Linked DNA regions of Homo sapiens. The protein of the gene in region 1 interacts with the protein of each later gene in a pairwise test. Each region holds a gene or a part of one and is shown in the gene's direction. Other genes may lie near its edges.

The links.
Region 2: the proteins of PPP1R3C (region 1) and LONRF1 interact in binary tests that used the Homo sapiens proteins (3 or more experiments, as listed by UniProt).
Region 3: the proteins of PPP1R3C (region 1) and PPP1CB interact in binary tests that used the Homo sapiens proteins (3 or more experiments, as listed by UniProt).
Region 4: the proteins of PPP1R3C (region 1) and EPM2A interact in binary tests that used the Homo sapiens proteins (3 or more experiments, as listed by UniProt).

The regions. Positions count from the first base shown.
Region 1 is NC_000010.11:91,629,879-91,638,453, reverse strand, and holds the start of PPP1R3C (protein phosphatase 1 regulatory subunit 3C), read left to right. Parts: upstream 1-5,382; 5' UTR 5,383-5,484; coding exon 5,485-5,498; intron 5,499-7,587; coding exon 7,588-8,527; 3' UTR 8,528-8,575.
Region 2 is NC_000008.11:12,744,840-12,752,526, reverse strand, and holds part of LONRF1 (LON peptidase N-terminal domain and RING finger protein 1), read left to right. Parts: intron 1-7,687.
Region 3 is NC_000002.12:28,747,218-28,755,276, forward strand, and holds the start of PPP1CB (serine/threonine-protein phosphatase PP1-beta catalytic subunit), read left to right. Parts: upstream 1-4,612; 5' UTR 4,613-4,907; coding exon 4,908-4,959; intron 4,960-8,059. UniProt on the Homo sapiens protein: Protein phosphatase that associates with over 200 regulatory proteins to form highly specific holoenzymes which dephosphorylate hundreds of biological targets.
Region 4 is NC_000006.12:145,633,992-145,641,678, reverse strand, and holds part of EPM2A (laforin), read left to right. Parts: intron 1-6,192; coding exon 6,193-6,434; coding exon of another isoform or gene 6,435-6,520; exon of another isoform or gene 6,521-6,599; intron 6,600-7,687. UniProt on the Homo sapiens protein: Plays an important role in preventing glycogen hyperphosphorylation and the formation of insoluble aggregates, via its activity as glycogen phosphatase, and by promoting the ubiquitination of proteins involved in glycogen metabolism via its interaction with the E3 ubiquitin ligase NHLRC1/malin.

The DNA.
Region 1 (8,575 bases):
AATAATGTCTGCATGGATTATTTCTAACTTACTTGTTTATTCACCCTAATCTTCCGATGAATACAGAGAAACTGCAGCAACTTGATGGAACTATCGACACAAAAGGATGGTACCTCCCCCACAGTCAGATTGTTATTTTATTCTCTGCTTATTTCATTTTGTAGTACTTAGATCTCTAATTTTGTTCATGATAATCCAGCAGATTTAAAAAAATTTTTACACTTAAGATTCTCTCTCTTGGCCTGGCACAGTGGCTCAAGCCTATATAATCCTAGCACTTTGGGAGGCCAATGTGGACAGATCACTTGAGGCCAGGAGTTGGAGACCAGTCTGGCCAACACGGTGAAACCCCGTCTCTACTAAAAATACAAAAATTAGCCGGGCGTCATGGCGCATGCCTGTCATCTCAGCTACTTGGGAAGCTGAGGCAGGAGAATCACTTGAATCTGGGAGGCGGAGGTTTGAGATAGTGCTGCTGTACTCCAGACTAGGCAACAGGTGAGAGTCTGCCTAGAAAAAAAAACCTCTCTCCTTTGACCTCTCCTCCTCATGCTCCCCAGCCAGAATCCTCACCTTTAGCCAAATTCTTCTCCTTGTAGTTACTCAATAAGTCCTGGTCCTCTTTGGCCATCCTGACCCCCAGAGGCTTCTCCTTTCTCTAAAGTCCTGAAGCATGTGTAGCAAATGTGTGTAATATTCACATGATCCATTTGCCACTAAGTCAACCTGATACAGTTATATCATTCTTTTTTTTCATCCGCCCTCCCCTCTCCTTTTCCTCACCTCACCTGAGATACCTACATGTTTCAGGCGGCATCCTGCACTTTCTTTTCTTTTCTTTTTTTTTTTTTTTGAGAGGGAGTCTCACTCTGTCACCCAGGCTGGAGTGCAGTGGCGCGATCTCGGTTCACTGCAACCTCCGCCTCCTGGGTTCAAGTGATTCTCATGCCTCAGCCTCCCGAGTAGCTGGGATTACAGGTGCCCAGCACCACTCCCAGCTAATTTTTTTATTTTTTAGTAGAGAAGGGGTTTGACTATGTTGGCCAGGCTGGTCTTGAACTGCTGACCTCAAATGATCCACCCACGTTGGCCTCCCAAGTGCTGGGATTACAGGTGTGAGCCACCTCACCCAGGCCTGCACTTTCTTTAACCCCTTATTTTGCTAACACTTATGCTTTTCCACCACACCTAGACCATTGTCTGCTCTTACTGGACTATTTTACAAATGGGGTTTGAGGTAAAAACTAAAAAATTTCCAGTAGTGAAAATTATACTTGAAAATCCCTTTAGTGCAAACGGAATGGCTGGTAGCATAGTCTACTTGGCAACAAGCAGATTTGTTAGTCCTTTCACTTCCCCACTTGCCTCTGGGAATATGCCCTTTGAGTGGAACGGTGGGTGGCTGGCACCGTTTCAATGGTGATCTTATTTGCTCTCTTATTTGCTGAGCCACAAAGTTGTATTCTAGTCATCTAAATGCCCTAAAGATGATAGCACATCATATTTAAGTTCTTCCCATTTTCCTGGCCTTCCCAATTCCCGCTACCTCCTTGAAGCTTCCACAGATATTCCACAGCGAGCCTTCTCCTTTCGGGATCTCTTTGGCCTTCGGAGCTGCTTTTTGGTCTTGGTAGCTACCAGTGTGGTGCTTGTCTTTTTCAGAGCAACTCACATACTAGGAGCGTGGATTCTAGAGGGGCTTGAAACCTGATCCTGTCACCTACTAGCTGTGTGATCTTGGACAATTGGCACCTTCGATGTCTTCACGTTCCTCATCTGTGAAATGGGTTTCTACCTCACCGGATTCTTATAAAGATTACATGAGTTAATATTTCTAAGTGCTTAAAACAGTGCCGAGCCCAAAGTAAGCAGTATATGTTTTTCAGGTTGTATCCTTTTACTTAATATTGGAGTTCCTGTTGAATGTAGCTAAAGAAGGAAGAAGAAAATAGTGTACAAGAGCGCTTACTATTAACTGAGACAAATGAATTGGCACCTTTTTTGTTCTCCAAAATGCAAAACCTGCTCCTTTTAATAATAATTAAAAAAAAAAAAAACCAGTTCGCAACTTCCCTGACTCTTTCACTGAAACTCCGTAAGTGATCTTCAAGATCACTTACGAGGTTTCTCTCAGTTACCACTAACTGTGGTTAAAGTACTGACATTTTTATATTAATAACTATGAGGCTGAATTCTCAAGTACTTTCTTGATTAGGCACTGAAAAAAGACAAGCTTGCAGAAAATGAGTTGGCAACTTGGCAACCCCCCAGGGTGTTTTTCCAAAGGCAGCTCTCAGGCAACGTGTTGAGTGAATGCTGTAAGAGACCCACTTGTGTAAGCCCCACAATTATCAGCTCCTTGCTTAGTAGCTTCTTAAAATGTCTGCTGGGTATTCTATGAATTTGTTTTTCTGTAATAATGATTGTAACCTCCTCAAGGTCAAAGGATTATGACTGCTCAGACTTTGTAACCCCTGGCATGGAGCTGGAACTACTGCATAGCTCAATAATTTCCTGCTGATAGATTGATTGTTAAGATGGGTAGGACCAAGCAATGTTTAGATGCTGCCAAACCACAGTGGGAGAAATCCTACGAATAATAGTACAACTCCCCACGATTCCTTTCTACTCTGTCTTCATTGGTGCAACCTACAACTAAGAACACTGATTCCATCCTAGTTTCTCTCATCCAATAATGAAGGGGAGCAAAAGCTGGGAAGGAGACAGAAGTGAAAAGCCTGGATCATCCAATTTAGAGGTTTATTGAGTGAGTGTTGAGTCCTTTTAGGAGAAAGCATGGTCTCCCTGAATCTTCCATTTGAAGGAGCTGAAAGGGAGAGTGACTTCTATGGCATTAGTCAACACCAGGGGGCAGGAGAGAAAGCTGTATGAATGGAACAGGCTGAAAGGGTGGTGTGAGTAAATGGCACAAGCATGTGAAAATTTCCACCACGGTTCTTGGCACCTAGCAGTACGCTATATGTGTTAGTTGAATCCCAGAGTTTTAACGCCCTTGAAAAATTATTTCTTAATTAGGTCGTGTATGTTCATTGTAGAAAAATTAAGAAAAACAACAGAGCAGCAAAACAACGAAGACATTTTTAATCACTCATAATCTCACCATTCCAAAATGAACTGTTCACATTTCTGTAGAGCACATTCTGTTTTCTATGCATGGATACCTTTCCCTCAAAATGCGATCACCATAAATTGTTATTCATGTTTCTCCATAGTTTTAACTGGTAATATTTACTATTTAGCTCAACATATAATCATGGGTAGAGGAAAAGAATACCCAGGGTTCTAGTTTTGGCTCAGACCTAGCCAGCCCCTGGCAAGCAGCTTGACCTGTCTAAGCTTTCAGTTCCTCATCTGTGAAATAAAGAGTTTGATGCCTATCACCTCCTACCTCCATAATTCTAACCATTGATGGGTCATTAAAATAAGACAATATGGTGCAGCGGTTATTGCTCTGGTATCAGCCAGGCTCTAATCCCTGCTCTACCTGTGAGAACCTGGGCAGGTTTTTTTTTTGTTTTTTGTTTTCGAGATAGAGTCTCGCTCTGTTGCCCAGGCTGGAGTGCAGTGGTGCAATCTCAGCTCACTGCAACCTCCGCCTCCCGGGTTCAAGCGATTCTCCTGCCTCAGCCTCCAGAGTAGCTGAGAGTACAGGTGTGCACCACCATGCCCGGCTAATTTTTGTATTTTTAGTAGAGATAGGGTTTCACCATGTTGGCCAGGCTGGTCTTGAACTCCTGGCCTCAAGTGATCCACTGGGCAGATTTCCTGACCATTCAGTGTCTCCGTTTTCTTTTCTCTAAAATGGGATTAATAATTGGACATATCACATAGGGTTGTTGTGAGGATTGAATTGATAGCACATAGTGTTTGGCACAGAGTAAAGGCTCAACAAGCAGCAGCTATTCTCAATATTTTAGCTCAGGCACCAGGCGCCTTGAGGTGATAGAGTAAAAACTCTAGCTGAGAGATCAAGTAGAAACTTGGGAACTAGCCCGGGTGGAACACAGGCACTGGGCATCGTGCTGAGTCTGTTCATTGGCACCATCTTACTTCATCTTCAGAACGTTACTATCTCTGTTTTACACATGAGGAAACTGAGGTTAGAACTTGCCTAGATTCGTGTAGCTAGTAAGTGTCAATCCAAAGACCTTCCAGCTAGTTTTGGTTGAGCTAAAGGGGCTAGAAGACCTGCCATTAGTTAGATATTTCATTTCAAAAATAAAACCCAGGCATGAAGTCCCTTTCCCAGTGATATTCAGTGTGATTTTTTTCTTCACTCTAATAATTTTAACAATTCCACTGTTTGACAGTTGTTTAAAAGACATAGGAATTTTTGTATATTTTAATTGACTAATGGATAGCTCAATTAGGGGAGCAAAACTAGGATGTGGGTTTTATAAAAATAATTTAGACTTGACTTAGACATTTAATTTTACAGTTGTAAATGATGGTCTAAAAATTCTTCAAACTAATCAAAATAATGAAACTTCAGCGAAAGTGAGTGGCTCAGAAGGCCCATGAAACATACGGCGTGATTTTTTAAATTTTATTTTAACATTTTGATTTCCACACCACTGCCAAAGGACGTCAGAATTGAGTAAGGGGTTTGGGTTGACTGCTGCCTCTTGACCGGCTGTATGTGTGAAAAGGGTCATTTCACTTCCGGCTTTAGTGTTCCCCGCAGGGGAGAAAATTGAAGAATAGACAGAAATACGAAGTGTCTTTTAATTAAATGCCACCTTGGTGTTTTATGGGGCTCGTATGCTTTCCTAACAACATTTGTTAGATAAGTTGGTAATTCCCGGCAGCTGTCTACTGTGTGGTGCATCTGTGAACTCATACTAATCGAAAAGCATGCAGCCAGTTTGGGATCGCGCAGGCTAAGGTGAGGGAGAAATGCGGATACACCGGGTAATGAACGATATAAACATTTCAAATGCGATACACATTCGGTTTGAGCCACATCTTCTGTGTGCAGATTCACCCGCAGTGACCCACAAAGCTATTCCCAAGTAACAGCCGCCCCAAGCCTGAGGCACTGGCGCCCCGCCTGGGCGAGGCTGGCTGCGCTCTCTCTTGGCCGGCGCCCGCTGCATGCGGTACGTGCCTGCCCGGCCCCTAGCCCAGGGTTCCCGTTACGCGGCTGGTTCCAGCTGGCCGCGGAGTCCCAGAACCTCCCCGCGATGCCCAGATAGCTCTCTGCACGTCTCGCCCCGGGGCGATCACGTTGCCGGGGCGAGGGCTGGCGCCCCAGCTGGGCGCTGGTTGGTCGCGCCCTGGGGCTCGAGGCCCGGCGATTGGTCCCAGGGATCGGGTCACGTGCTTGGGAGCAGATAAGCGGCCTCTAGGCGCCGGGCCCTCAGTCTCTCCCAGCGACCGCCGCGGGGGCAAGGCCTGGAGCTGTGGTTCGAATTTGTGCAGGCAGCGGGTGCTGGCTTTTAGGGTCCGCCGCCTCTCTGCCTAATGAGCTGCACCAGGTAGGTTCGCTGCAACTCTGCGCGCTAGGAACACAGGGGAACGCGCAGCTGTGGGGAAGTTGGGGGGCGTTTCAGTTCTATCATCTCTGGAAATGGACACCCCAGGGGGAGGACAAGTGGACTGACTGCGTAGTTGAATCTGGCAACCGAGAGGCCTTGGAGGTGTAGAAATTTGGCTCTATTTCTTAAGCAGAGCCTATTTTAGTAATCAGCATCTTAAAGCAGAAATTATCTTAACGTGAATCAGCTTGAGTTAGGATTTTCTCATGGATGCGGCTGTTCTTTTGGTCCTGCACAAATGTCCCAAAGACTCGGGCAGCTGAAGTGGTGAGAACAGCACTCTGACATTGCTGGTTAGGTGGTTTAGCTTGGAGGAAAAAAATTACAGGACGACGTTTGCATTCATTCGTCCTTCTTATCACAGTTTGCCATAGCAAAATCTCAAGAGTTTGAGCAAACGATTACTTTTAACTCTTGTCCAGGACTTAAAGTTCCAAGGAAATCACCCAAACTAAAACTGTCTTTCTATAAATGCAAAAAGTAAAAAAAAAAAAACAAAAAAACCAAAAAAAACCTCCCATAAAACTACTTTAAATAGCTTCTCCAGACATAGCTTAGCAGAAGACTTCTCTAAAAATCCTGCCTATTAACTATTATTAGACCCACAAATATAGCTTTAGCTTTCATTTGTTTGTTCTAAGTTTGCAGATCTCCCAGAAAAACCCCAGAGCTAACACAGTAAATTCTGCGAGTGTTATTACACACTTTTGTGATAATGACCACTTGCATACATGTTTAGAGCTGCTGTGAGGAGAGTTACTAAAGCCAGACTGAGAAATGTCGTGTACAGTATACACACACCTCTTACTTGTAAGGCTAAGATAGGGAAAAAAATCTTAATACCATAAGCTTGGAAATATATGATGAGGGCTAAAGGTCAGAGAAAAGTCTTCTTTATAGATGCTTCTTGGTTTAATATTGCTGAGCATAGTCATGTTTAAAACTTTAAATGGTTTTATTGTCTTTCTACTTATAAATGTCTATTAGAAAATGCCAAAAAAGAACAAAAACGAAAATAGATAATCTATAATCCTATCACCCAGAAATAATAATTATTAAATTATTAGGAAAGGTGTATTTCCTATAGAGTTTTTCAATATTTATAAGTTTGTATATATAAAATGTATATTTTAAAACACTCCAACTTTCAGGTAATCAGTTTTTCCACTTAAATGTGGACTTGTCATGGGCATCTCTTTAGGTGAATTATCAATTATATAGTTTTTAAGTGCATATGAATTGTTGGCTTGTATTTCAGTGGTTATTTGTGAAAAATAAGAGCATGATAATCAAAGTGCAAAGATGATTCTTTGACTTCTTCTCTAGCCTTCTCACTCTCAAAACTGTTGCATGTTATTTTTTTTTTTTCAAGTGAATTACCTTACCAGAGAAGTGTCAATCAATTTAGCAGCAAAATAAGCCAACGTAGCCAGAGGGAGCAGAGGGTCTGGAACTGTGGCTCCTGAACCTGTCTGGTCATTAGAATCACCTGGGAAGCTTTAAGAACATACCCATCCCTTGGCCCTAGCCCCAGAAGTTCTGCCTCAGTAGTTCTGAGTCCCAGGAATTGGAAAGAAAGAAGAAAGAGAAAGAGAGAGAGAGAGGAAGAAAGGAAGGAAGGAGGGAAGGAGGAAAGGAGGAAAGACAAGAAAGAAAGAAAATGAATTCCCTAGACATAGTGACCAGACAGGTTTGAGGACCACTGGTCCAGAACAGAGCACACAGTTCTCAAGGCTGCCTTGGAGATAATCAAATCGAACCCTTTTATTTCTCAGATGGGGAAACTGAGACCCCCATCACCCTCTAAGTGTTTTAAGCAATTAATAGCCTTTAGCCGGCCAAGGGTAGAGGTAGACATAGAAGATCTGATCACTTAATACTGTTCTCTTTTACTACATATGATAGCACCTGCCTGATATCTAGTGCACTGGCTATAATTCAGTCAGCACAAAAATAGTACATATGTATTTGGCACTGGGGAAGAGCATTTCCGATCCAGGTGATAATCCCTCTTCTTTTTGCATTCCAGAATGATCCAGGTTTTAGATCCACGTCCTTTGACAAGTTCGGTCATGCCCGTGGATGTGGCCATGAGGCTTTGCTTGGCACATTCACCACCTGTGAAGAGTTTCCTGGGCCCGTACGATGAATTTCAACGACGACATTTTGTGAATAAATTAAAGCCCCTGAAATCATGTCTCAATATAAAACACAAAGCCAAATCACAGAATGACTGGAAGTGCTCACACAACCAAGCCAAGAAGCGCGTTGTGTTTGCTGACTCCAAGGGCCTCTCTCTCACTGCGATCCATGTCTTCTCCGACCTCCCAGAAGAACCAGCGTGGGATCTGCAGTTTGATCTCTTGGACCTTAATGATATCTCCTCTGCCTTAAAACACCACGAGGAGAAAAACTTGATTTTAGATTTCCCTCAGCCTTCAACCGATTACTTAAGTTTCCGGAGCCACTTTCAGAAGAACTTTGTCTGTCTGGAGAACTGCTCGTTGCAAGAGCGAACAGTGACAGGGACTGTTAAAGTCAAAAATGTGAGTTTTGAGAAGAAAGTTCAGATCCGTATCACTTTCGATTCTTGGAAAAACTACACTGACGTAGACTGTGTCTATATGAAAAATGTGTATGGTGGCACAGATAGTGATACCTTCTCATTTGCCATTGACTTACCCCCTGTCATTCCAACTGAGCAGAAAATTGAGTTCTGCATTTCTTACCATGCTAATGGGCAAGTCTTTTGGGACAACAATGATGGTCAGAATTATAGAATTGTTCATGTTCAATGGAAGCCTGATGGGGTGCAGACACAGATGGCACCCCAGGACTGTGCATTCCACCAGACGTCTCCTAAGACAGAGTTAGAGTCAACAATCTTTGGCAGTCCGAGGCTGGCTAGTGGGCTCTTCCCAGAGTGGCAGAGCTGGGGGAGAATGGAGAACTTGGCCTCTTATCGATGAATTAAGCAACAATGTAACTGGTCTTGACTTGTCATATTCCCCCATGCA
Region 2 (7,687 bases), on another chromosome or scaffold:
TCACTGCATTAGCTTATTTTTTCCTCATTTTTAGTTCTTTCAAGAATCATTAATTCCATGCTTGAAAATGTCTGAATGGCACTAATGAGGATAAGTTTTTTAATCTTTTGAATTCTTAATGTGAACTAACAGGAAAAAAATCTCAGAGCTAACAAATTAGAGTTGGTAAAGGGCCGATTTATAAGTGTCTCACAATTTATGGGTGTAAATCAAAATGTTAACTAGTACAGTCATAAGCTGTTTGTACAATCCTTAGGCTTTAACTTCTTTGGAATTGGCAAGCTAGGCATTTGACATGTATTTATATAACTGTACGGTTGTAGTTATTAATGATCTTGTCATTATTGTTGATAATGAAAAAAGATCTTCACTATAATTTCTTCGTATAATTCTTATAATGAAACAAGTAAATACTATTAACTAGAAAAAATCTAGTCTGCAGTTAGCCCACACACATCCAAACTTATCTCTGCCAGCAGCAAAAGAAAGCTTGAAAACCTTTGCCAAAATCAGAAGTTTCCCATTTAGATTACATAAGTTTCTGTTGAATTGAAATATATTTAGATAACATTTAAACCATTGATCTTTTGGTATTAACTCTCAGATGTTTCATAACTTTCTGTCTTTTTAGTATTCAGGGATATTATGTAAAGTTTTTCCTGCACTGAATCTCTGTGCTTGAGCCTACTGAAATGATCCCCCTAAGCCATGCTGCCTGCCTTTTGTGTTTAATGTTTTTTTACACTGACTTATCTCCTTCGTGTGTTCACCTCTCCCCCAGAGGAAGACAACAGAACAGTATAATTTACAGTTTGTACAGGTTAAAAAAAAAAAAAAAGGTTGTAAGGTGGGGGGGTGATATTTTGTTTTAAAATATTTGGGTAAGGAAAATTTTGTCTTTAATATTAATTCTGTAATGCTTGACCAGGCATGGTGGCTCAAACCTGTAATCCCAGCACTTTGGGAGACCGAGGCGGGCGGATCGCATGAGGCCAGGAGTTCGAGACCAGCCTGGCCAACATGGTGAAACCCCGTATCTACTAGAGATACAAAAAATTACCCAGGCGTGGTGGTGCATGCCTGTAGTTCCCGCTACTCCAGAGGCTGAGGCAGAATTGCTTGAACCCGGAAAGTGGAGGTTGCAGTTAGCTGAGACCACACCACTGCACTCCATCCAGCCTGGGCAACAGAGCAAGACTCAGTCTCAAAAAAAAAAAAAAAAAAAAAAAACATAAAAATAAAAATATAATCCTTGACTGTTACCCAGTATTTTTACATTATTTATATTAATATCATTTGATCTTCACAGAGAATTCTATGGAGTACTGTAATATTATCCTCAGAGGGAAACTGAGGCATCTATGGATAGACATGCAGTGTGGCTTAGTGATTAAAGCTCTGCATGCTGGAAGCTGACACCTGGGTTCCAATCCTGACGCAGCCCTCGCCTCTCTCCGACCTTGTGCACGTTGCCTAACCTATCTGTGTTTTGGTTTCCTTATCTGAAAAATGAGAATAGTCTCTACCTCATAGGGTGTTGTGAGAATCAAATGAGTCAAAACATGCTAAGTGCTTTAAATAGTGCCTGACACAGAGTAAATGCCCAGTAAATATTAATTCAATATTTTTAAAATGTAGAAGTGTGTTACGGCTAGAAGGGGATTTTGCTGAAAGTGGAATCTAAACCTTGCAATTTTACATCCTGTTCTGTTCTATCACTTGGTAGAGAGTAACAATTACATCCCGATTTTAGTTTACACATGTTAACTAGCAGTTTAGCATTCATCAATAAACTATAGATACTTAAAAGCTTTAGCTATCAGAAGATCAGTCAAATTATAGGTAAATACTGAATACATTTAAAGAAAATGTAGAGGGTTTTTATTATCTTTAGTAACTCAACTAGGTTAAAATGAAGAAATTTGAATTTAAACAATACAGTAGTTTCCCCTTATTTGTGGTTTCAGTTACCCACATGGTACAGTATGATAAAATATTTTGAGAGACCACTTTCATGTACGTTTTATCACAGCATATTGTTATATTGTTCTATTTTATCATCAGTTATTGTTGCTAATGTCTTACTACACCTAATTTATAAATTAAAGTTTATCACAGGTATGATAGTATATATAGGGCTTGGTACTATCTGAAGTTGCAGGCATCCGTGGGAGTCTTGGAACGTATCCCCCTTGGGTAAAGGGAGGCTCTTGCTAACTTATTTATGTCCTTACTTATTGTGCAGAGGACTTGAAACAGTAAACACTGATGTCTGTATGGTGATTATAGTTCACAATTATTTTCATTTCTATTATCGTAATTGATCCATACACAAACTCATGTGAGATAGGAGGGCAAGTATTAATATCCCTAATTCACAGATGTAAGAAAAGTTGCAAGAATTTTGGGTGACTTTCTTAAGGGAAGTAAGTGACCAAGTTAAAACTGAAAGCAGAACCCAAATATGTGCATATTGATTCAAAACACAAAGTTGATTTAAAAATTAGCACGCAAAACATAAATCTAAAATATTCTTACTATTCAGCAAATTTTTATTGAGTAGCTACTATATACCAGGCATTGTTTTAGGTGCTAGAAATATAAAAAAGGAGTAAAATAAAGTCCCTGTCCTTGTAGAGTTTGTATTTTTTGTTTCTTTTGTAATTGCAGCAAATTGAAAATCCCTAGAAAATGGGGTTTACTGCTTAATTGGCTTCTACTTAACCGAGACTATATCTCTAATTATTTTCTTTGATTCATAAGGTACTTTAAGGATTTTTTTTCTTAGTGCCTCAGGGTTACTAAAAAGATCAACTGTAATGGCTTTTGATATAAATGATAAAAAAACTGATTCAAGTGTCCCATTTCAAATGAATAATTTGTTTTTTAACTGTTTTTCATTCATCAAATGCAGAATTTACCAAAACTGAATTATCTTAGATTTCTAGTTATTTATATATTAACTTTTTGTTTATTCAGAATCATTTTTCTGTTTGTTGGAATATTTCTAAGAGCCTTGGAAAATCTCGAGTAAAATTTTAAATGAATTTGTATAGTGTTCTGCCTCTTTCCAAAGGTATTTCTCAAAATTGGAATTGTTTTATTATTGAAGTTGAATGACTTCAGGGAACTCTAAAATGCAAGATGGAAGCTTCTGTTTGGTTTTTTCTTTCCCTTTGGTAAGGTCTTTTGCTTCCCATCCCCTTGACCCACCTTTGTGCTGTCTGTTGTCCAGTCTGCTCTCCTGATCCCTAAAGATGTTTCTTATCTAGGCTACCATTTATGTGGGTAAAAGACAAGGTAGAAAATACTCTTCTGTATCTTGTATCAAGGGTTAATCTAATATCTTCATCACTTTGTTTTGAGATATTTTGGAATGTTATCAACAATTATTATAGATGGAGCATGTATGTCTTAGGTTTGGTGTTAACTGTTTAACATGCATTATCTTATTCAATCCTCACAGCAGTTATAAAATGTAGGTGTTTTAGAGGTAAGCATATTATAGGTCAGGAGAGTTCAAAGAGTTAAACTACCAAAAGGGGATCTGAACCCAATTTCTGAATCTAGTGTTAATGATCTTACTATCCCAAACTCCTACTCCTGAACATTCTTAATCAATGATCAACAGCTTATCACTTGGCAGCTTTGAGCTCAACCCTGGTAACCAAGTCATACTATACTGAACATAATGAAGCAATAGAAGCAAAAAAAAAAAATTGATATTCTGGTTAGCCTTTGAAAATTTCGATAGCTTGATATATAAATCTCAGAAAAAGACACTCAGAAAAATGAGAAAAGGAATATGAATAGAGAACTTTATACACAGCCCAAATACTGAATAAACACAAAGTTTTAAAGGTCAAACTTAATGAAGAAATGGAGGTTGTTAAAATTACGATGCTATTTTTAATTTATGTATTTCTAGCAAAGAGAAGAAACACAGCTTGTGGGAGTATAAAATAAAGTCTTTATAAAAGAAGGGTTGGCAGAATGTGTTGGAAATGTTGTATATCTTTATAACTTTCTAGGCCCAGCATGGTGGCTCATGCATATAATGCCAAAACTTTGGGAGGCCAAGGAGGGAGGACCACTTGAGCCCAAGAGTTTGAGACCAGCCTGGGCAACATAGTGGTACCGTATCTGTACAAAAAAATTTAAAAATTAGCCAGGTGTGGAGGCATGCACCTGGAGTCCCAGCTACTGAGGCTGGAGTATCTATTGAGCATAGGAGGTCGAGGCTGCGGTGAGCCATGTTAATGCCACTGCACTCCAGCCTGGGCTACAGAGTGAGATCTTAGATCTTTTCTCAAATAAATAAAGTACAAGCAATAAATAACTTTCTACATACTGTATAGCAAATAACTAAAAAGGCAAGCAGGTACATAAAGATAGACGTTTGTTATACTTTTTATACTGCCAAAAGTTGGAAGTAACTTAATTGCAGAGTAGGAAATTTTTAAATAGGTTGTATATATAGTAGGATATTTTGCAACTATTAAAAATCATGTGGACTAGTATTACATGGGAAAAAAAGCAGATTATAAACAGCATATATAGTATATTTTATAAAACTACATGTTAAAAATGTACTTTACACATAAAGAACAAAAATGTATGGGAGGCCGTTTGTTTTAGACTGACCTGCACTAGGCACCAGCAGACCAGACAGAATTAGAATGGAGGCCCTTGTGCTGAGTGCCACATAATCAAACTGAACTTTGAATTTGAACTGAAATGAGCCAGTTTTCTAAAAAAAAAAAAAAAAAAGAGAGAGATTTCAGTCAACCTGAGTTAGTGAAATAAGACAGCCCTCTCTGTTTTAACCTGTAAAGAAAGTTTTCAACTTTAAAACAACCAATCTACTTTTTGTCCCTTATTTCTGCTTTCTTTAAACCTTTTCTGCCTAGAAGGCTAACCTCCTCTGCTTAGCTCATTAGAAGACCCATTTTATAGAATGAGCTGTTGCCCATTCCTAGAATCACAAATAAAAGTCAATTCGAACCTTAAATTTGTGCTAATTTTTTCTTTTGTTAACACCAACACTGGCTATTTCTTTGTGATGGGTAAAAGATAGTTTTTACCTCTTATTTCTATATTTTTCAAATTGTATGAGTAAACATTTTTTAAGCTTTTGTGATTTGAAAAAAACTTTCTTGAAGGTGAACTAAAGAAACAACTTTAAGACCTGTTACTAACCATGGATCTCTAATGATTGGAACAAAGATAGAAAACCATGACTCTAGAATAGAAAACTCTCTCTTCAACCCATGAAATAAATGCTTTGGACAGCCGAAGACTAGATTCCTCAGATGGTGGAGCAGAGTCTTATTTAAATCTTTTTCCTTGCTGAATGACTTACAAATAATACTGGGTATAAAAGGAGAAAATGGGAACATGAATTGAGCTTAAGGAATCAAATTTTAATGAATTTTTTCTAATTCAGGAAACATTTATCAAAGCCAGGATCTGAGGATAAAAGGCAGGAAATAACGGAGGGAGTTCAAACATCTTTGAATTAAATTACTTTAATAAATAATGTATATATACGATGAAGGCACAGAATCATAATAGCAAACACGCCATGCTTTCAATGTACCAAGCCCTGTTCTAAGTACTATGCACCGATTAACTTACTCTCTAGAGTAAGCCTTGGGGTAGAGACTGTTACCAACATATTAATAGCATGGAGGTAAACAGCTAGAACTCTGGAGCTGGCTTCCTGAGTTAGAATCTCGAATCCACCAATTACTAGCTGTATGATCATGGGCAAGCTGCATATACTCTTCACTGTTTTCTATAAAAATGTGGACAATCCTAGATCCATGTAGAATTGTGCTGAAGATTGTAAATCATTTAGAACAGCACATAGTGGTGTTAATAATGTTTTAAAAGCCCCGGAATATTAAAGCTAAGGAAATTAAAGTACAGAGATTACTTGTAATTTACCCCAAGTCACAGTGAGTGGGTGGAAGAGCCAGATCATGCTCTTAGTGGTTATCATAAATTGTGGAGGAAGACCCAAAGCAAAGCATCTTGGGAGGAGACTGGTGAGCTGTCTTGCTGGATGATAAAAACTTATCAAGATAAAGAATGGTATGGTAAGGGAGGAGCTCAGCACAGGAATGAGGCATGAAATAGAATGGTGTACATGGGGCAGTGTGGGTAGTTAGGTATGGTTGGGACTTTGAGTGAGTGGGAAGGTTCATAATGATAATTAAGGCTGGAGAGATGGGCAGGAGCCAGGCATGGAGGAACTTGTACTAAATAATACCTGTTTTACCTTGTGAATGGTAAGGATATAGGTAGAGTAGAACTGAAGGCAGGGAGATCAGTGAGCAAGCTATTGCAATAGTATTAGAGATTTGGGGAGCCTAACCCAGGATTACTAGAGATAGGATTGGAAAAGGGGAGATTTGAGGAATATCATAGGAGGTGACATTTACAAAGTTGATTCTGATTTGGGAAGTTAGTGGTGTCAATAATAGAGAATACAATGAAAAATGCTTTTTTGGTGAAGAATGCTGAGTTTAGAAAAATTATGGCAGGCAGTTGGAAATTTGATGAATCTGAAGTTAGGGTGAAAAATCAGGACTAAAGATAAAGATCAGGGAGTTAAATCATGACAACTAGCACATCTGTCCCTGCTTCTGGTAGATATGGGTACAAGACCAGAGATATTAAGTGATTTAGAATAAGGTCACAGAGTTAAGTACCACAGTCATATTCAATACAATTAACCCAAACCATGTTGTCTTTGGATTTTGTCAATGTTGTCAAAATTTTGACAACTTTTGAAATTTTGTCGATTTCAAAAATGGAAAATACATAATATGCCAGGCACTTGCTGGGCAATACAGATACCTGCAGTAATGGAGTGAGCACCAGCATCTTCCCTGATGGCGTGTGCAGTGAGGTGACTCGTCTGTAGTGTCCTCAAGGTCACGTAGAGAGCATACAGTAAATACTTGTTGACTCTTTCAAACTTAAGTTAATGATACAGTCAGGACTGATAGCCATTTTGTTGTCTTTCTTGAAAGTTTACGTGGAAGGCAGACCTTGTGTATGCTTTTCAAAGGGGCTCATTTAGCGCACTTGGCGCTTAAGAATTTGAGATCAGTGTGATGGTCCTAATCTTTTTTTAAAAGTATTGGAAGTTTGAACTCACCTGATGGGGTTGGTTTTTTTTTTTTTTTTTTTTTTTTCCAAAAAAATAATCATTCAAAATAATCGGTTAACATTTTCAATAAGAGCATTACATACAAGGAGTTAGGGAACAAAGAGTTTTAAAATCTGGCTCTTTTTATCTCTACTTAGGGCGTGCATCTTCTCTTCTTACCCCAACATATACTGACTTTTTAGGACCTCCTTTAGGGAGATCTCAATATCCCGAATTTTTCTGTGTGGAGAGGGGAAGGAATATGTCTTTTTTTGCTTTGGTCAGAGTGGATACATTTTATAGTTTGTTTTTTCAAAGACGGGTCTTCTGAGTCACTTCTTTCACTGCTGCCGTAAAGAAACTGTATAAAGGTGATTGAGCAGTGAAGGCATGGATAAAAGGGGAAATATTCAGCAGTTCTGAACGTGCATGTCATCAAATATAAAGGAGTGAGAACTTGATGTATAAGAAAAAATGGAAGTTAAAAAAAATAAAAATCCAAGAATGGGCTGCTTGTTGCAGTAGTGA
Region 3 (8,059 bases), on another chromosome or scaffold:
TTGGATGTAACTCTGATGAATATATTTCACAGCTCACAAATAGTTTGGCTTTAGTTTTAACAGACATATGCTATTAATTTTAATGTGGTCTTATATATTATGAGAAGCTACTCATTTTATAACTACATAAAAAAAGTAATGCTTTCCTTGTCTTATCTACCAAAACCCAATTGAAACAGAGACATAAAAACCAGTTAGGGCCAGGTGCGGTGGCTCATGCCTGTAATCCCAGCACTTTGGGAGGCCGAGGTGGGAGGATTGCTTGAGCCCAGGAGTTCGAGACCAGCCTGACACAGCGAGACCCTGTCTCTACTAAAAATAAAAAAAAATAGCCGGGCATGGTGGCACATGCCTATGGTCTCAGCTACTACGGAGGCTGAGGCAGAAGGATTGCTTGAGCCTGAGATGTCAAAGCTGCAGTTAGCTGTGAATGAGCCACTGTATTCCAGCCTGAGTGAGGCTCTGTCTCAAAAAAAGAAAAAAAATTAAGCCATTTAGCGGTAAACCTCCAACTGAAAAGGTGAATTATATGTGATTTGGATATACTACAGGAGAAACAGAGCAACAAGAAACAAAACATTTACAGTACACTGTTTCATTTGAAACAAATATTCACATATTGTATACTTTCCCTCATCAAACAGTTATTTCCTGGTATCCATTTCAGTGAGCAGGATGGGGGGAGGGGGGAGCAATAAAAGAGAAACATTCTTACCTGTGTAGATGACTTGCTTTTATTGTAACAAAGGCAACTGGCCCTGTAATCTAATTACAAGAAAAAAAGGCCACAGATAAACTCTTCAACAATTAAATAGTCATTACTTGTGGTAGCTGTTCACCTAGCTTTAATTGCCTTATAGTTAACAGTTCTAAATAGCCAGTTAACTCCTTCAATTACTAGACATTTATTTTTCAATCACTTTATCTTGAAAGATACGGATGTACTATGGAGTTAGCTTAAGACAAACTGAGAGAGAGAGAAGAGAGAGTTGGTTGGGGCCACCGGGGAGGTTACTGACCAAGGGCAGGGAAGGAGGCATTTATTTATATTTGCCTTATAATTCTGGGGGACTAAACTGGCTGAGGACATGCCTTATGGCTTAGCTATAATTTTGGCTATTCTCATATGTATAATGAAATGAAACCAAAACTAAATCTTAAGAACAAATCTTGGCCCTGCCTGGCTGTACCACCTAGGCCTGGCTCTGTATTGAGAGAGGTGGCCTCCTAATGATGCATATATGTCCTTGTCTGGTTTTCCAATTTTCTTGAATTGAGCTGACTATAAAAGCTTAATGCATGCGATATAAAGAATGGCTGACCTCCAGATACAACTAGTAAAATTTCAACTTACCACTACTTAAGACTTATTAAACACTTGATTGAGAAGAATCATATTTATGGAAGGACAGCCCAATGAATGTTGATTCATTCATTTAAAAGTCATCTTGGATTAAGCCAGAGCAGCAAAAAACTATATATCACCCCCTCCACATTTTGCTACCTAAACTTACTCACTTTCACACCAGATTGGCTACTGGCTAATACTGACAGGCATATAAGAAAAACATCCCTATGAAAGTCTTTGCTGCGTTTACTAACCGGAGTCACCAGGCTGCTGTTTACTGTGTTCCGAAATGCCTTCTCTAAGGACTATCCATAGAGACAGCTCTCTGGTCTCAATTCAGAGATGGTTGGGTTCCTCTGAGCACTGGTTTGCCTTTATCTGATAGGCACAGACATTATCTATTAGTAAAAATAAAATAATAATTTTATTAAGACCCCTAAATCATGATGCCCAAACCCCTTGCAATCAGGAAGTCTAGATAAATAACAGGAGTTTCCCTTCATAGAGATTTCTGGAATTACCCAAGGATATTAACATGCATGACCCAGATGCCTCCCTAAGCCTTATGGTGTGCTGGCAAATGTTTAACAACCATTATTCAGAAATAAGACAGGAAAACTGCCATCTATGACTGGTAAGATTATAGGTGATTTTTGTATTTTTTTTCTTCATTTTCCCAACTTCCTTCAGGAAACACATTTTACTCTGAAGGGGGTGAGGGTGGTGGCTAATACTTGGGATTATGGTGAGCTGCCCTAGAAACTATCGGGTTATTAAGTAACACTTAATATATGTACCAGTTTCACTTCAAAATCTGAAGCATTCTGAACTCTTAATTATTTTGGAGGGATATCCCACAGAAAAGTTGGCTGAGGCCCTAGTGATAAAGCTCTTTCTTACAGTGGCCCATTCCTGCCCAAGACTCCAGGCACTGGAAAACCTGGTGGGGGTGGAGAAGGTAACATCAGCAGGCAAGTACTCGGAACCACTCTCCTATCTCCTACCTCTTCTTCTCACGACCTCCAAAACTCTGCTGAGACCGGCCTCCCTCTGCCTCACTTGTGGTGATTTTCTCTCGGATGCTCACTTTCTCTCTGTGCAATCTTTCCTTTGGGTGTCCCTTGTCTTTAAACATGTCTGCGTATACCTGAACTCTAATTGTGGACAGGGTTCAAAGTTCTTTTTCATGGGATTCATGGGCCCCATGAAAATTAGAGGCTAAGTAGGCATCTAAGTAGGAGCATTTACGTGCTCCCAGGCATTCTGTTACACTTAAAGAGGCTCATGGAAGAGATTTGGGCAAGTGGTATAACTCTACAAGCTGCTATATTCAAGTCCTAGTTCCAGCTTAGCCAAAACACCTACTCCGATTGCAACTGATCTTTTTCTTGGTTGCTAGAAAACTGAGAGTCATATGTGTGGCCTACCTCCAGCAAACCAATAGGACCTTACACCATGCATTTTGCATACAAAACTGCTGGCTTAATCTTATCTTTCACACTCACGGTTTTCTTTTGTCCTATTTTTCTCTGTACTTATTTTTAATTTACCCTGATGTACACATTTATGTAAACTACGTTAAATCCTTTCCTCTGGAATAAAGTAGGGTGTAAATAAATTTAACAAAACAACAAAGAGTGATGATGAGCCAGGTCTTCACTCCTGAAGGCCTCAAAACGAACTGGCAGTGATCTGTGAAAACTACAGAGAACTGCCCGTTCATCTCCACAGATTACTGAAGTCTGTGAAAACTACTCCAGCCAGGACCACCATTATAGCCTGCTGCCTGTTGTGTTCACAATCGATGCACAAACTCAACCCTGAAATGGAGAGAAAAATAGGGGAAAAAAGACATTAGGAAATCCTAGCTCTATGTCATCTGGACATTAGAAAGCACTTGGTTGGACAAAGCTTTTTCTCCCCCACAGCACATGCCTGTTTCAGCATCTCAGCCCACATTCACGGAGAGGGAGAATATAGCAATTGTTAAGAATGCAGACTCTAGCACTGCATGCTCTGCTGTTTATTTGTGTTATTTGGGCTAGGTTTTTTAACCGTCTGTGCCTCGGTGAATCCCATCTACAAAGTAGAGATAATAATAGTACCTACCTCACAGGGCAGTTGTAAGGATTAAATGAGGTAACCCGGGTGTAACATTTAAAACAGTGGCAGAGTACATACAGGGATCTGAACAAATGTTAGCTACTATTAGTGATATGTGAGTGGGGGAAGCACACTGCCTTGGACTTGAGGCAATATCAAGTCTGAGTTTCTGGAAAAACACTTGTGGAATAAGTAAGGGCTGGCCACCTCCTAAAACCGGACAAAAGATCTGGCTTGCCTAGATCCTTAGCGTGACTGCTTCTCCTCCTGCCTTTCTAGAGGCAGTATTACGTGATGGAAATACTTGGTGGGTGCTGTGGGCACAAAGATAAGTTAATGTGTTTTTATTCCCTAGGAGCTGAGTCGAGAGTAGGAGAAAAATGCATAAATAATTACCAGGTAGGATGATTAAGCAATATACTGGAGGCAGCAACAGAAACACACCGTGGAAAAAAAATACCCACGGCGTGGATGAAGATATGAGATGTGTGAAAGCGCTAGACACAGGCAGCCACCTGCACCCATGTAAAATTGGATTATTGCTGACTCCTACAAGGCCCACTTTAACGCTTCTTTCAACCAGAATCCCTGCAGAACTAATTTTGTAGAACCGCCGGGGATAAAGACCTTTATTTGCAATGTCGAACTCCAGCAGAGTAACCCCTTTTGCTTTCCACACGCGCAAACCCGGGTCCCAAACGCTGCAGTTCGCGTTTCCCGGCTAACGGAAGAAACACGAGGAACTGTTTGCAGATCTAGGGGATGAAGCCAAAAAACGGAAAGCGAGGCCGAAAGGGCGCAACCACCACGTCTGGAGGAGGCCAGTGAAGTAGAGAAAGGGGAAGGTCAGCCCTGCCCCAGCGCGCTCTGCGTAACCGGGACTTCCTCCGCGCGGCAAAGCCGGGGAACCTCCCTGGCGCCTGCGCCACCGTGGCGAGACTCGGCGCCGTGGACGTGGAGAGAGGGCGACGCACCTGCGCGAAGACGGCAGCGGGAGAAGCCGCTCCAGTGCGGTTGCGCGGCGGCCCAGGCGTCGAGGGGAGCCTCGGCGGGGAGCGCACCGCGCGCCTGCGCGGAGAGCTGCGTGACGCGGCGGCGCGCAAGGGACGTGCGGAGTGAGTGGCGCTGCGGGTGGGGCCGTCGGCGGCGCTGGTGAGCTTTGCGGAGCTGGGCGGTGCCGAGGAGGAGGAGGTGGCGGCCTGGGTCTGACGCGGCCCTGTTCGAGGGGGCCTCTCTTGTTTATTTATTTATTTTCCGTGGGTGCCTCCGAGTGTGCGCGCGCTCTCGCTACCCGGCGGGGAGGGGGTGGGGGGAGGGCCCGGGAAAAGGGGGAGTTGGAGCCGGGGTCGAAACGCCGCGTGACTTGTAGGTGAGAGAACGCCGAGCCGTCGCCGCAGCCTCCGCCGCCGAGAAGCCCTTGTTCCCGCTGCTGGGAAGGAGAGTCTGTGCCGACAAGATGGCGGACGGGGAGCTGAACGTGGACAGCCTCATCACCCGGCTGCTGGAGGGTGAGTGCGCGCCTGGCCGCGGGACAGAGGGAGGTCGGGCACCGCCGCCGACCCCTGCGTCCCCGTCTGCCGCCGGAACGCGAGGGGACCCCTTTCCCGCCCCGAGACGAGTCTCTGGGAGCGCGGCGCGGCGGACGAACCGAGGAGGGGGCGAGGAGGCTCTGGGCGCGGGGGAGCGGCCTCTGGGAGCGCGGTCAGGGGAGATCGGGGGAGAGGGGGCCGTTCCCGCGGACCCTCGGGGGCCAGGCCCGCCGGCCGAAGGCTGTGCGGAGCGGGTCTGCGGGAGACAGCCTTTCGGAAAGGCCGCCGGGCTCCGCGCGCCGTGGTGCTCGCCTCCGGTGACCCGAGGATGGGGAGAGGATGCCTGCCACTGGGCTTTGTGCGTCCGTGGAATCACTGTTCTTCTCTGTTCTCTTTGTGCATTGCCCTTGGCTGCCTCCGATTGTCGTTCCGGGAGTGAATTTTACGTATATATATATAAACCTGTCCTTAACAGGACTGCTTCGTCTGCTCTGCATTTTTACACAATGCTATATAGAATGGATTCTTCTTAAAGAGAGGATAAAATTAGCGGGAATTAATCTACCGTTTGTTACTTGGCCTAAAAAAATTGTAAGACAAGATATTTGATCAGGTTGAAGATGCACCTAAGAAATGTGATGTATGTAGATGGGTTTGCTGAAGGGATTGGCTTTTGCATTTGATTTGAGCAGAGCTTAATTTCTGCACAAACTTAGTGAAAATCTATTTTTAAAGCCTGTCTTGTATTCGAAAGGTATTTGTAGGTCTACGCAGCATTTGAACTTTCCGGGCTCAAGTGTTCTTATTGAATAGTTTTATGTTGGTGGGAAGGCAAGGGGGGAAAACGAAGAGGTGGACTAGCCGGGAGTTAAATGTATTGATTCATTGCAGGATATTATTCAAAGTTAAATGCAGTCTTCTGCCAAACAGTCCCTCTACCCTAAAGTTTTCGTCATCAATAATTGTTTTGTGAGTGTGTAGAAAAGCCTTTAATCCTTTTTAAACAATTTAGAGGCCTCTTTGTTAGCCGCCGTCCAGCGATTGCATATGTACTGTTTGCTTTCAAATTACCTTAAGATAATTGCTAGAGTGAAGCAGTATGTACTTATATTTGGAAAATCATCAAAGAATATTGTAATGGGGGAGGGGTAATTCCTTTTTCTCAAAGTATGTGTCGGTATCTCAAACCCAAGTTCTGTGAGTACCTGTTCTGTAACTAAATACTGTGTATTTGCTCCAGATGTGAAAGCCATCCAGCAGTCTTAAGACTGAATAGGAAGCAAAAGTTTTACCAGGAACTCTTATTTACCTTTTCCTTTACTATCAAGTTATTCCTGGGAGGCCCCCTGGTGCCTGCAGTCAGTGTTCACTACCTAAGACTTTGTTTCAGATGTGAACATCTTGCTGGGTCTTTGAGAAATTTGCTTTGAAAATAATTGTATTTTGTAACTGTTTTATGAGGGAAATACAGTTAATTTAAAAATGTGTATGTCTTGTTTACATTTGGGAAGTAGAGGCCTACTCCTTTTTATTTTTTTTTTATTTTTATTTTTTGAGACGGAGTCTCACTCTGTCGCCCAGGCTGGAGTGCAATGGCACGGTCTCAGCTCACTGCAACCTCCGCCTCCCGGGTTCGAGCGATTCTTCCGCCTCAGCCTCCTGAGTAGCTGGGATTACAGGCACCCCGCCATCATGCCCGGCTAATTTTTTTTGTATTTTTGTAGAGACGGAGGTTTCACCATCTTGGCCTGGCTGGTCTTGAACTCCTGACCTCGTGATCCACCCGCTTCAGCCTCCCAAAGGGCTGGGATTACAGGCGTGAGCCATCGCGCCCGGCATATTTTTATATATTTTAAACTTTGCTTGTAAATTTAAATATTTTAAAAATATGTTTGTATCTCAATTTATTTATATTTTATTTCATTTTCCATATATTTTGTAGGCATAAAACAGATTTATGTTTTAAAATGTTTGTATCCTTTTAAATTAGACGCACCTTTATATGATTACAGGTACTTAAACTTCACGAGTGGGTTGTGCAAGGTTACTAGAAAAGACACTGGGGGAAAAATAAGTGATTCCATTTGTTTTTGTGAATTCAAATTAAATATTTGGTTTGTACAATCTGTTTTCCTTTTTTGGGGGGGCGGGGGGGGGGCGGGTAAGAATTGTAGTCCAGATACGTTTCTCTCTTAATTTAGCAAGCGTTAACAAGTTGACCTCCTCCTTGCCAGGCACCAGCAATCCTAAGATAAGACACAGTCTCTTCACTCAAGGAGCTCCCAGTCTAAACAAGTGTCTTTCAGGCTTTTTCAGCCTCCTCTCTGTCCTATGTTCAGCACACATTCTATCAGTACTTCTTCATCCTACAGAAGCATATTTAGTTTGACAGTGCCCCCAAGGGATTCTTAAATATTCTAGGTTTTTCAGCTCCTTCCCAGATCCAGACCTGTTGAAAGACTTGTCCAGAGCAGACTTGAATTTTCTAGTAAATAATTATTTTTAATCTTCAAAGAAAATTTTGTCCACCTGGATTTTCAGTGATATTAGATGCTAGTTAGTGATATTTTGTAAAGCTGCCTAGCAAGAATAACTATGGTTAGTGTTTTTAGTGTCAAATGAACGTGTAAGTAAAAATTTGGCAAGAATTTCTCTGCATTAGGGGAAAACATTCAGCAGGACCTGATCTCATTTTAAAATGCTGATTGTAGCCCCACAACATATTCCTGATTGTTTTTTCTTTTTTACTGTATTAAATCGCAGATCAGCTATACACACTTCTGGTGACTACATTTTATGAGTTGCTTTTTGTTTTTCTTTTTTAGGTGGGCGTATTATTGATAAGTTTTTTTTGTTTTTTGTTTTTTTGAGACGGAGTTTTGCGCTTGTCACCCAGGCTGGAGTGCGGTGGGGTGATGTTGGCTCACTGCAACCTCTGCCCCTGCAGGTCCAAGCGATTATTCTGCCTCAGCTTCCCAAGTAGCTGGGACTACAGCATGCCACCACGCCCCGGCTAATTTTGTATTTTTAGTAGTTTCACCATGTTGGCCTGGCTGGTCTCGAACTTTCCATCCTCAAG
Region 4 (7,687 bases), on another chromosome or scaffold:
AAGAATTCCAAACATCAGGATGAATGGTGAAAAAAGATCTATTACAATGCTTTAAGGACGTCTGGTGTATGGATATTTGAAAAGAGTCTGGATGATTGAATGACTCTATTTTAAGCCTGAATGTTTAGACTTTTATTGGGTTGCTAAGGCTGCTTTAACAAAGTGCCACAGACAGTGTGGCTTAAACAATAGAAGCTTATTATTTCACAGTTCTGGAGGCTGAAAGTCTGAGATCAAGGTGTCCACAGGGTTGACTCCTTCTGAGGGCTGAGTGGCAGCATCTGTTTGAAGCCATCTTCTCCCTGTATCTTCACATTGTCTTCCCTCTGTGTCTGTGTTGAAACCCCCCTCTTATAAGGACACTAGTCATTTTGGGTCAGTGCTTACTCTGATGACCTCAGTTTAACTTGATCACCTCTGTAGAGACCCTGTCTCCAAATACAGTCACATTCTGAGTTCCTAAGCGTTAGGACTTTAACATAGGAGTTTGGGGAGGGGGACACAAGTCAACATAATAGGCCTTTATAATTAATGATATGGCATTTCATAATATGGAAAATAAAAGAGCATTTTGTCAAAAATTATTTGCTTTCATATGGCTCTAAACTACACAGTACATCCCCAAAATGTAAGAAATGAACTGGACTTACAGAAATTAACTTGTGCTCTATATACATAGTGTATGACTCATAAAAAACTATAATAAAACTATGGTTTAATAAAGAAGCTAATTAGTATCACTTTCTAAATTGGAATTTGTCTTTGAGTAGTTATTCAGCCTTAACTGGAGCCTGTTATAAGCACCCTTTTGGGGTAGAAGTTTGGCATTAATAACTTAACACTGGATGCTAGAGGACAAATTTTCAGCAGAAGGAGCTGTATGTGCTACTGAAGCCTGGAGCTTACTAGAGGTTGATTTTAATGTTTCTCTTGCTTTCCCACTAATGAGATCTAAATTATAGGACGGATAGACTTTTTTTCCCTTTACTCATTATTTAAGAGCCAGTTCATATTTTAATTTCTCATTGAATTGCCCGTAAAATATTAAATAAGATAAATGCAACACAATTATCCAACTTAGGAAATGTGCTTTTTTTTCTTTCCTTTTAAATTCTTAGCTGGGTTTTGTTAAGAGCTTCAGCAAAATCGATTTTCTCTATTTTTTGAAATGGTGCTCCGTTTGTATGGCTAGGAAGAGGGCACTGCAGTTCAACAGTTGGAGTCTTTAGGTGTGATAAATAAACAAAAGCTGGTTCCATTATTCCTGTGGTTTTCCTCATCTTTTTTTCTTTCGATGGACACAAAATAATGCTGATTTTCACCTTTAGGAAAAGGTTATTCTGCCATTTCTCATGGCCATTAGTGATGGAAGCTGTAATGTGAAGTCCATTGAATGGACTTGTCTCCCAATACCTTTTGTCTTTTAGACACCCACTTCTCCTGTCGATACCCTGTGGTGATTTTTACAAAGTGCTTGGATGGTCATTCTGTCTGATGTGCCAGTGAGGCTTCCTTTGACTGACAGTTGAGCGTCTGATTCATACGCTTCAGTAGCTGTTGGACCACAGGCCCAAGCCTGATGGGTGAAACAAATACTGTAGTATTATGATATGGTTACCTGGAACCACAAATCCAGATTCACTCAAATGAGTTAAATTGATTTTGATTTGCAGTCTAAGAAAATAAGGTTCCAGAATGTCAGCCATCTATTCTTTCCCCTGGTCTTTAGCTAAGTTGTAATACTACTAGGGTAGATTTTATTTATGTATAATCTGATTATAGCACAGCAGAAATAGTCAAAACCCTAGTTAATAATTTTTTTTCTACAAAAGTACATTCTTATGCATAGGACTATATTAAATATTTGTCGTGGCTCAGAAGTAGATTTAGTTTTGACCAGTTAGAAGGTACTGTGCATTAAACACATGGATATACATTGTCTCTCATAACAAATAATTTCTCACTCTAGGAATTATTTGTAGTCTTGACACTATTTTTTGGACAAAGATAAGAACTCACCTTAATTTGTAGATATGTCAGACTGAGGAAGCCCATTTTTTCTCATCTCCATATTTTTTACTGATATTTAAAAAAGATATTGGGCTCTATATATTAAGCTTCTCTTACATGCATATGGAGACCTTGGACTGGTGGTCCAAGGTGGTGGTTCTGGAATCTGCTGCTTACACAATCTAGTTAATTTCTAAACAGACCAAAAATCAAAGAACCTACAGAATTATAGGCCTAACTCCCAAGCCTCTCTATAAGTATCTCTGAGATGGATCCTGGTAATAGATGTTTTTATAAAAGTACCTCATGTGACTTGAATGCATAGCCAGGTTTGAAAACTTCTGTCCTGAGCTGACTGAGTGTCAATACCCTGTTGGTTTAGTTGGCGTCTCTTTACCTCCAAATAGTCTATAGTGGAGCTGCCAGAAATCTCTTGAGTTCATGATTGATAGTGGATTATTTATGAAACAAGTCTCTGGAAGTTTTATGATATAACTTATAATTGTAAGCTATAACTTCTATTCCATTATATCTTTGAATTTTGGTATGCCTTGCATTAAAACTACTCTTACAGAGAATTTTTATTCTCTAATCTCATATGTCAACAGGCTTCTTTTCACCCTAAAAATCCTGATGTTAAAAATTGTTTAAAATAACATTGATACCAAAAGAAGACTAAAACTGAGATGAGATGAGTAAAAATGAATTTTTAATGGTATCAAATTATCCTCTTTTGAATGGATGAGTAAAAGTTTAATTACTTTTTAGAAAGCATATCATGTATCTTGTTACCCCCAGTGAATCCTATAACTAGAAATATATCACCTACTTTTGGAAAACAAACTGAAATAGGATGCACATGAAGGGCACTTTAGCTGTCTGATTAAGCAGAATCCATTGATGTGTTTGTTTCCAACAGGCCCAGTCTTTGTCTCTGCATCCCATACAATGATTCAGTACAAATCACTTTATAACCTTACTTTTCTATCTTTCAATATAGTGTTTGTTTTCAGAGTTTATCTTTAGTTATCTGTCTCTAGGTTTAGAACATCTTGTTTTAAAGTAGCAGAAATTAGTTCATACTCATTTCTTAAATATGGACTCTGACTTCCACCATGTCTGGATGTATATTTTAAGGGCTTATTTCCATCAGAAATGTTATGTGTGAGATATATGTGTTAAGCTACTGGCTTTGGGCCTGTTTATCTTTGACTTGTTCTGAGTTTCCCTATCACCTTAAAAACATTTGAAGGCCAGGGCTGAAGGATATGATAGAATAACACCTCTTTTAGCAACAACATGTGACTCTATAGACTGACTCTGATTTGGGATATGCTGACTCTGATTTCTTATATTGCAGGCTCAAATGTCCTAATTTACCCTTTGTGTATCTCTATGAACTATTCTTGAGCTTTTATGCAATCCTGTGTGAAAAATCAGCCAGCCATTTTATTTTGGCATTTACCGACTAGCGAAATACTAACTAGTACCCACTCAAAGAGTGCAATATTCAAGAAAATGCTGAGTGGTATTTGGATTTTAGCTTGCCTGTCATGAAATTCTCTTTAATATTTTACCAGTCCTCTTTAAAATTTTGCCAGTTGAAAAAAACAAACAAACAAATAAAAATTACTGTCTTATAATAGTTTCTATTTCTTGGTTATGTAACGGAAGTGTCCACTTCCCTCTTTTCCAGCTTAGGAGCTTTAGTGTGCTCAGTTGAACCCCAAAGTATACATACGTGAGCCCAGCACTATCACCTCACTAGGCATCCAGCAGGTCCCTGGGTAAGGGATCTTTGAAAGATCTGGAAAGAGGGATGGGACATCTAGTTAGAGGCAGGTCTCACTCAACAGCCAGAGGGAAGGGGCAATCAGCAAGTGGGTGTGACATTTCCCCCGAATACTCAGCTATCCAGGTCCTGATGAAGCTCGGCTCTTGGGCACCCTGCAAGTGTCCTTGCTCAAGGTCTTTCTCTCAGTACACTGGGTCCAGTGGAATATCTAAGAATTATCTGGATCCAGGGATAAGATGAAGGCCTTGGATTTCATGCCTCTCTTTCCATCACCATTAAGTCTTTTGCCATTTCTAACTTTTCTTTTATCATTTTTTTCCCATAATAATCCTCAATAAGGATTTCTGCAAGGAAATTCCTAATAACCCTTTAGACAAGAACACAAGTAGAAAAAAAAAAAAAGTTGTTCTTCTCCTGCAGGGGAAGCAGGGCTCAGGCTTTAGACAGATAGTGCCAGATCTTATGAGATAATTTTCACTGATTATGGGTCATGACCACATTAGAGGATTAGTTAATTGGCTTCTCCTGTTAACATCAACAATGACAACCACCACCAAAAGGAAAAAAGCAAAAAACAAAAAAAGCTAGCTTTCATACAAAAAAATAGGGTATCTTCTACTCTGTAGCATTCAAATGAAGAATATAGGAAACAATGAAGAATTAACTGAATAATCTTTACAATGCAATGCAAAGTAAATTACAAAAATAAGTAAATCACTATAGCTACACATGAAATCCGCTTGCACTTACTGTGCATCCACGGTTTCAGTCCAATTCAGGTACATTAATTGTATTTATTCCTTACAAGATTTTTATGAGTTATTTTTAGACCCATTCTAAAGATGAGTACACCAACAGGTTAGAGTTGATAAATAACTTGGCCTAACATCATACAATTGTTACTAAATGTTATACGAAATCTTTTTTTTTTTTAATTTTTTTTTTTTTTTCAGACAGGTTCTTGCCCCATCGCCCAGGCTGGAGTGCAGTGGTGTGATCTTGGCTCATTGCAACCTCTGTCTCCTGGGTTCAAGCAATTCTTAGGCCTCAGCCTTTCAAGGTAGCTGGGATTACAGGTGTGTGCCACCACGCCCAGCTAATTTTTGTAATTTTACTAGAGACGAGGTTTCTGCCATGTTGGCTGGGCTGGTCTGGAACTTCTGGCCTCAAGCAATCCCCGCCTCAGCCATCCAAAGTGCCAGACTACAGGCGTGAGCCACTGCGCCAGCTTCTTTTTTGGTTTTTACATTTTTCCTTTTGGCTGTTGTTGTCAACATTGTTAACATGAGAAGCCAATTGCCCAGTTCCCTAATGAAGATCCACCACTGTCTTTCTAAAACTTCAGTTCTGCTTACCCTACAGGAGAGAATAAACTTTTTTTTTTTTTAAGAGATGGAGTCTCACTCTGTCACTCAGGCTGAAGTGCAGTGGTGCAGTCTCGGCTCACTGCAACCTCCGCCTCCCGGGTTCAAGCAATTCTTCTGCCTCAGCCTCCCCGGTAGCTGGGATTACAGGTGTCCACCACCACGCCTGGCTAATTTTTGTATTTTTAGTAGAATTGGCCAGGCTTGTCTAGAACTCCTGACTTCAGGTGACCCGCCTGCCTTGGCCTCCCAAAGTCCTGGGATTACAGGTGTGAACCACTGCATCCGGCCAGATAAGCGTGTTTTATGTTTTTTCTCCTTGGGTTCTTGTCTAAAGGGTTATTAAAATTTTTCTGAGTTTTTAACTTTTTCATTTCATTATTTTTTTCTATAATAAACCTCAATGATAATTTCCAAAAGGAAACTATATTGCTATTTCTCCTTCTTACCTTGCAGCATTAGATGAAACCTATAGAACACTGCTAGGTACTAATGGAATTAATGTTGATTCTGATCTTATTAAAAGAAGTCTGTTGTTTTTTAGCTTCTGTTCTTTAGCATATGTTAAAAGTCTCATACTATTTGAAATATTTGCATAGACTTTTAAACCGGAATGCCTGCTGAAATTTGTTTTTCAGAATTTATTTATATAATTACAGGAATTTTCACCTCTAATTTGTTAGCATTTGAAGTCTATTGATGGATTTTTATCATGTGGAACCATATATGCATTCATGGAATAAGTACAACTTGGTAGACTTATTTTAATATATTGCTTGATTTGGTTTGCAAATGTCCATTTCCTGGCGTTCTAGTTAATTGAAATACTTGCTTTCCCCAAAGCAGCAACACCAGTACTTTTTCTTTCAATAATAACATTGGTGTTCATATTCTAAAATATCTAGCTTTTCCTGTGCCAGACTTAAAGGTTAGTTATATTTTAATACTACATGTTTTATGCAGCTCCTTAAACCTCAAATCAGAACAACACTAGTGATAGTTGTCTCCATATGTTCTCATTAGAATTCTACCAAATATCTGGCTGGGTAGCTGCCCTCGTCAGGTGGAACATGTAACCATCAAACTGAAGCATGAATTGGGGATTACAGCTGTAATGAATTTCCAGACTGAATGGGATATTGTACAGAATTCCTCAGGCTGTAACCGCTACCCAGAGCCCATGACTCCAGACACTATGATTAAACTATATAGGGAAGAAGGCTTGGCCTACATCTGGATGCCAACACCAGATATGAGCACCGAAGGTAAGGATCAGAACTGTTCTGCCTCCTTGCTGTATTTCAGAGAAACCCTTGCTGTCTGTCTGTCTATCTATAATTTAATATCTTAAAAATGAATGGTAGAAATGGAATAAATATAAGATTTTAGATTTAATATATATAATACATATGTTTTGACACTGTGGCTAAGATTCTGTTTAATGTGGCTTCTTTGTTTATTCATTCAACACATATTTATTGTGTATGTACTGGGTATGCGGCATTATGCTAGTAGCTAGGAACACAGCAGTAAAGAAAGACAGGCACAACTTCTGCCCCCACGGAGCGCATTGTCCTATAGGGATGGCAAATGTTAATCAAATGACTAAAAATAGAAGTTTAAAACTATGATGAATTTTTTGTTAGAAAATATATAGATATTGCTATGAGATTATGTACAGGTAATCAGGCCAAGAAGTGGGGTCAAAGAGGGTTTTCTTGGAAAGTAGTGTTTGGGCTAAGATCTGAGGGTGGGCTGGAGGAAGAGTGAGTGGAGGGAGTGACCCAGGCAGAAGCAGCAGCTTAGAAGAATCCTTGTGGCAGGAGAGAGCACAGAGTGTTGCAAAAACTGAAAGACCAATGTGGCTTGGATCAGAGAACGAGGAAAGATGATCCTGCAGGATTTGAGCGACAAAAAGGACTTTAGACGCTATCCTATAGCAGGAAGAAGCAGTTGTACAGTAAGACGAGTTCGACACTAATTACAGCACAGAGGGGAATGGGTAAGAGAGGAGTGAGGACCGTGCTGGAGGAGGGTTATGCATGGGAAGAGCACATTCTGGGGAGCGACAAAGGGAGGCTGCGTGAATGCCATGGCACTTGAGGTGGGCATGGCTTTGATAGGTAGATGTGGAGGGAGAAAGGGCATGCTAGGGGGAAGCAGCAGCACAGGCTATGGCACAGAAGCATGGAATTTTAGAGGAATGATAGGGATTTTAGCCTGGTTGTAGAATAGGGTACTTGTCGAAGAGGAGTAGAGATAACTACAGTCGGCAGAGGAGAGAACCAAGTTACACCGATAGTATCAAGCAGCTGTCAGCAGGGGGCAGCAGAGAGCTTCAGAAATGGGAGAGGCTAAGGAGTTTGATGACCTCCTCTGCTGGGGAAAGGACAGTGATATCCAGCTCAGAGACGTTTCTATCTTTAGCCCTCTTCCCCCAAATGTATATTATGTACAAAACACTCTCCTAAGCAATTTACAAGAATTAGCTTATTTAATTCTCATAATAAGACTCCAG